Homo sapiens: one gene and its partner. The protein of the gene in region 1 purifies or fractionates together with the protein of each later gene. This does not show direct contact. Each region holds a gene or a part of one and is shown on either strand. Other genes may lie near its edges.

Region 1 (2,713 bases):
GAGTCTTGCTCTGTCGCCCAGGCTGGAGTGCAGTGGCGCGATCTCGGCTCACTGCAAGCTCCGCCTCCTGGGTTCACACATTCTCCTGCCTCGGCTTCCCGAGTAGCTGGGACTACGGGAGCCTGCCATCACTCCTGGCTAATTTTTGTATTTTTAGTAGAGACAGGTTTTCACCATGTTGGCCAGGCTGGTCTTGAACTCCTGACCTCATGATCCGCCCACCTCGGCCTCCCAAAGTGCTGGGATTACAGGCATGACACCGCTCCTGGCCAGGAAGCAGCATTTTTAAAACGTGAAGCAGACCAGCAAATGAAGTGCACTGACCTATGTGGGGTTAGAGCGAGAGTGTGGCTGTTTGTGCTCACACTTGCTGTGTGGGGGTAAGAGTGTGGCTGTATGTGCTCACACTTGCTGTGTGGTGGGGGTAAGAGTGAGTGTGTGGCTGTGTGTGCTCACACTTGCTGTGTGGTGGGGGTAAGAGCGAGTGTGTGGCTGTGTGTGCTCGCACTTGCTATGTGGGGGTAAGAGTGTGGCTGTATGTGCTCACACTTGCTGTGTGGTGGGGGTAAGAGCGAGTGTGTGGCTGTGTGTGTGTGCTCACACTTGCTGTGTGGTGGGGGTAAGAGCGAGTGTGTGGCTGTGCTGTTTCTCTGTGCGTGCTCACGCTTGCTATGTGGGCTCAGTTGCTGCTGCTCGGGAGTGCTGGAAACTCAACAGAGTTTCAAAGCCCAGATGCCTACTAAATTCTCACAGAGGAGTTCAAAGAAGGCTAGGCTCTGGGCACGGTTCTTCCAGCCCCCTTAGGGTCACCAGGGCCCCACTGCTTGGCCCCCTTACCCTGCACAAGGGCATCTGCCGGGCAGAGCTCGCATCCACCCGGAAGGTGCAGAAGAGACAATTAGCATGCAGAGCAGGGGCCAGAGAAGCACTCACACCTGTACCAGTATATGGATGTTTATATTCACGACGTGTGTGTGTGGTGAGCGCGGGTGCGTGCAGGATGGTCTAAGGCAGTGCTGTATCTGCAGTTTCCATTCAGATGGCCTTGCCCAGCCACGTGCCACGTGGGGTTCTGCCTGCCTAGTGGAAGAGACTCCACACTCTTTTCCCCAGGAGCCTCTTCACAGAGCCAGGGCTGGTCTGCCAAGAAGTGGGTAGCCCTTATTCATTTGCGCAGAAGTTCCACGCAAAGAGGGATCTGGAAAGAAGGTGGGAGCTTTCCCAGAAATCAAAGGCCCTGAAGCCTTCAGAGACAAGGTAGAGGACAGCCCCGGCTGCTATGCCAGACTCGGTGGCCACCTTTCTTCCTAGTCTCCAAGCAGTCTGCTGCAGCTCCCTGCTATAAAGGAAGGGGTGGGGGAGAGATGGTGAGAAGGGGGTACCAGGAGGAGGGGGCCACGAGTGCCTGAGGGACAGCCACCAGGGAGCAAGACATGACCCCAGCCAGGGGGAGGAGATGCCTCCTGCCCCGACCCACTTACCACCATGACATGAGCAGGTGGAGAGGGGGGTGAACCAGGGTCACCTGTGTTGGCAGCAGAGTGAGGAGACTTGAGCTCTCTTGGCTGTGGCCCCCTGAGTCCCCCTTTCAGGTACCTGTGGCCATTTTTTTTTTTTTAGAGATGGGGTCTCGCTGTGTTGCTCAGTCTGGCCTCAAAACTCTAGGGCTCAGGTGATCCTCCTGCCTCTGCCTCCAAAAGTGCTGGAATGACAGGCATGTGCCATTGAGCCTGGCTGCCAGTGGCCGTTTAAAATATTTTTTCTTTTTTTTTCTTTCTTTTTTTTTTTTTTTTTTTTGAGACAGAGCTTCGCTCTGTCACCCAGGCTGGAGCGCAGTGGCGCGATCTCAGCTCACTGCAAGCTCCGCCTCCCGGGTTCACGCCGTTCTCCTGCCTCAGCCTCCTGAGTAGCTGGGACTACAGGCAGCCGCCACCACGCCCGGCTAATTTTTTTTTTGTATTTTTAGTAGAGATGGGATTTCACCGTGTGAGCCAGGATGGTCTCGATCTCCTGACCTTGTGATCCGCCCGCCTCGGCCTCCCAGAGTGCTGGGATTACAGGCATGAGCCACCGCGCCCAACCGAAATATTTTTTATTTGTAATTCACCCTGTTTTAAGTGTAGGTTTCGTAGCTCGATGTGGCAGTGCATATGACTGTAGCCCCAGCTACTTGCGAGGCTGAGGTGGGAGGATGGCTGGAACCCAGCAGTTCAAGTCAGGTGGAGGCTGCAGTGAGCTAAAGATCGTGCTCCAGCCTGGGAGACACAGCAAGACCCTGCCTCAAAATAAAATAAAATGGGGCCGGGCACGGTGGCCCACACCTGTAATCCCAGTACTTTGGGAGGCCGAGGCGGGCAGGTTGCCTGAAGTCAGGAGTTCGAGACCAGCCTGGCCAACATGGTGAAACCCTGTCTCTACTAAAAATACAAAAAATTAGTCGGGCGTGGTGGCGGGCGCCTGTAGCCCCAGCTACTCGGGAGGCTGAGGCAGGAGAATCACTTGATCCTGGGGAGCGGAGGTTACAGCGAGTCAAGGTCATGCTACTGCACTCCAGCCTGGGCAACAGAGCAAGACTCTGTCTCAAAATGAAATAAAATAATAAAGTAAAATAAAATGATAAAATGAAATAAAATAAAAAATAGGCCAGGCACAGTGGCTCACGCCTGTAATGCCAGCCCTTTGGGAGGCTGAGGCGGGCGGATCGCCTGAGGTC
Region 2 (3,823 bases), on another chromosome or scaffold:
TCTCTCCTATTATTCTGTAGGCTTCACACAAACACAGACATTCTGTCTTATTCATCCTTGTACCTTCCTCATAGGCAGTCAACAAATATATGTTGAATGAATGCATGTAAGGGGTAAGGTTTATAATGTTAACTCAGGCTGAAAATAGAGGCAGTTCCCAATGTAATGAACACATAAACAATCTCTGTCTATGTTAATGCCCTCATACGCTCTTTATAAAACCATTCTGGCTGGGCATAGTGGCTCACTGCCTGTAACCCCATCGCTTTGGGAAGCCGAGGCGGGCGGATCACAAGGTCAGGAGATTGAGACCATCCTGGCTAACACGGTGAAACCCCGTCTCTACTAAAAATACAAAAAATTAGCTGGGTGTGGTGGCGGGTGCCTGTAGTCCCAGCTACTCGGGAGGCTGAGGCAGGAGAATGGCGTGAACCCGGGAAGTGGAGCTTGCAGTAAGCTGAGATCGCACCTTCAGCCTGGGTGACAGAACAAGACTCCTTCTCAAAAATTAAAAAAAAAACCATTCCATTTTGAACTCACTTCTTGTATTGCCTTGGAAGACATCTAGCCATTGGTACTCATTTCTGTTCCGGGTCGAAGGGACCTCACCTTCTTTTCCACCAGCGATGAGACAGGAAGGCCTCAACTGGTATCCCTGAAAGGGGGAGAGTTGGACTCTTGCCACAAGTCAGGTATCTCACCTACTTCTCTCTCCCCTCTTGTGACCTTTTCTCAACTACTGCCCCCTAGTGTGGTTCCAATGGTAAATGACGGATTTGGAAGAGGAAATAGACATCCCTTCTCCTGTGGGTTTGGGATTGGAGTCAGAATGGCCACTGTGAGGACACCTGGTGATCCCTGGACCCTCACTAAGACAAGACTCAGAGGGACACCAAGCAGCAGGGGGAAGTCAAGAGAGAATAAAATGCTAAAGACTTTTTGCTTTAAGAGTTGAAGAGATATATATTTGATATATATTTATTATGTTTGGAAACCATAAAATGAAACCAATAGGATGAATGAATGGTTTTTATTCTTGTTAAACAAGTATTTATTTGGTACCCACTACATGCTTTGTATAGTTGGCTCAACCTTCAAACTCTACCCATTATGAAGCTACTGTTTACCATGTCCACTGCCTATTTCTAATCTAGCCACCTTCACCTCTCACCTGGAGCGTGGGAACACACTACATCTATAACAGAAAATTATTGTTTAGAAACAACCCCATTATTCCACTATTACAGATAACAGTAGTAAATGTCTTTGCTGTAGATGACCCTTGTTTCTTTTTTAATTTTAATTTTTTATTTTATATATATATGTGTCTGTGTGTGTGTGTGTGTGTGTGTGTGTGTGTGTGTGTGTGTGTATTTTTTTTTTTTTTTTGAGACAAGGTCTCACTTTGTTGCCCAGGCTGGAGTGAGATGGCATGATCTCAGTTCACTACAGCCTCGACTTCCTGGGCTCAAGCGATCCTCCCAACTCAACCTCTTTTTTTTGAGACAGAGTCTCACTCTGTCACCCAGGCTGGAGTGCAGTGGTGCCATCTCAGCTCACTGCAAGCTCCGCCTCCCAGGTTCACGCCATTCTCCTGCCTCAGTATCCCGAGTAGCTGGGACTACAGGTACCAGCCACCACACCCGGCTAATTTTTTGTACTTTTAGTTGAGACAGGGTTTCACCACATTAGCCAGGATGGTCTCGATCTCCTGACCTCGTGATCCGCCCGCCTCAGCCTCCCAAAGTGCTGGGATTACAGGCGTGAGCCACCGTGCCCGGGCCCGCTCCCATCTCAAGCTCTTGAGTAGCTGGGACGACAGCCGTGCACCACCACACCCTGTTAATTTTTTGATTTTTAGTAGAGATGAAGTCTCACTGTGTTACCCAGGCTGTTCTTGAACTCCTGAGCTCAAGTGATCTTCCCACCTCAAGCCTCCCGAAGTGCTGGGATTACAGGCATGAGCCATCACACCCAGCCTTGACTCTTGTTTCTTCTTAAAAATTTCATTAGAGTAAGTTTGAAACATGAGATTACTTGGTCAAATGATATGAAGCCTTTATGGCTCTTGCTCTGTGTTATCCTCTTGCTTTTTCAAAGGGCCGTGAGCTAACAGGGAGCAGTTCATGACGAACTTTTACTAAAAGTATCACCATTTTTGTTTTCTTATTTTGTAGGTATAAAACGATACATAAAATTCAAATTTATTTTATAATTTTTGATACTGTTGTATCAAAAAATCTGAGTCTGATTCCTAAGGGAGATGAAACAGCATGAGTCATGTGTGTAGGGGAAGAGAATAAGGGAGCTTTTCCAGGTTGATTTGCAGTTTCTTGTTCAAGAAGCTCACCAGATGGTCGAACAAGTGACAGGAAGAAGATAGTTGAAAAGGGCGTTAACGTTTGGGAAAGGTGGATCATTGAATTAATGAACTGAATTGAATTCATTTATAAAGAAAGCATGAGATCCAGGTAGAAATCAGCTATAAATCTAAAGCATAGATCAGAAGATTCTAGCAAACTGAAACCACAACGAACTGTCACTACACTTTTATTAAAATGGTTATAATAAGAAGTGGTGACAACTCACTAAAGAGTGAGTTCAGCCATGTTACGGGATATGAGAGCAACACACAAAACTTAATCACATTTTTATGTGCCAACAATGAACATGTGGAAACCAAAGTTAAAAACACAAAACTACTTAGCTGGGCGCAGTGGCTCACACCTGTAATCCCAGCACTTTGAGAATCCAAGGCGGGCGGATCACCTGAGGTCAGGAGTTCGAGACCAGTCTGGCTGACTTGCTGAAACCCTGTCTCTATAAAAATACACAAATTAGCCGGGCTTGGTGGCAGTCACCTGTAATCCCTGTTACTCAAGAGGCTGAGGTGGGAGAATCGCTTGAACCCAGGAGGCAGAGGTTGCAGTGAGCTGAGATCGCACCATTGCACTCCAGCTTGGGCAAGAGAGCAAAAATTCCGTCTAAAAAAAAACCAAAAAACTACAGTACTACTTACAGTCACCCTAGAGAAAATGTGATGCTTGGGTATAAATTTAACAAGACATGTATAGGCTCTGTGTGCTAAAAATAGTAAAATGATTATGAAGGAAGTCAAAGAGGACCTAAAGAAATGGACAGACATACCGTGTTCATGGATTGCAGGACAGTATAGTAAAGATGTCAGTTCACCCTAAACTGGTCTATAGGTTTATGTAGTTCTTATCAAAATGTTAGCAACATTTTTGTATAGACATGGAGCTTCTTTTAAAATTTACATGGAGGGGCCGGGCACGGTGGCTCACACTTGTAATCCCAGCACTTTGGGAGGCCAAGGCGGGTGGATCACCGGAGGTCAGGAGTTCGAGACCAGGCTGGCCAACATGGTGAAACCCTGTTCCTACTAAAAAATACAAAAATTAGCCAGGCATGGTGGCGGGCGCCTGTAATCGCAGGTATTTAGGAGGCTGAGGCAGAAGAATCGCTTGGGCCCAGCCTAGGCGACAAGACCAAGACTCCATCTCAATCAATAAATAAATAATAAAAATTCATATGGAAAGGCACAAGCCCTAGAATAGCTTAAACATCTTGAAAAAGAAGAATATAAGTGAACATGCTACCTGATATTAAGATGTATTTTAGAGCTATAGTACTTAATACACTGTAGTATTCATGAAAAAATAGAAACATAAATCAGTGGGGCCAGGCACGGTGGCTCTCGGCTGAAATCCCAGCAGAGGCCAAGGCGGCTGAATCACCTGAGGTCAGGAGTTCGAGACAAGCCTGGCCAACATGGTGAAACCCCATCTCTACTAAGAATACA

The links.
Region 2: the proteins of SPMAP2 (region 1) and TTL purify together in Homo sapiens (affinity purification with mass spectrometry; one large-scale study listed by BioGRID and IntAct). This does not show direct contact.

What each region holds. Positions count from the first base shown.
Region 1 is NC_000019.10:363,421-366,133, reverse strand, and holds part of SPMAP2 (sperm microtubule associated protein 2), read left to right. Parts: intron 1-1,113; coding exon of another isoform or gene 1,114-1,209; intron 1,210-2,713. UniProt on the Homo sapiens protein: May be involved (but not essential) in spermatogenesis.
Region 2 is NC_000002.12:112,495,337-112,499,159, forward strand, and holds part of TTL (tubulin--tyrosine ligase), read left to right. Parts: intron 1-3,823. UniProt on the Homo sapiens protein: Catalyzes the post-translational addition of a tyrosine to the C-terminal end of detyrosinated alpha-tubulin.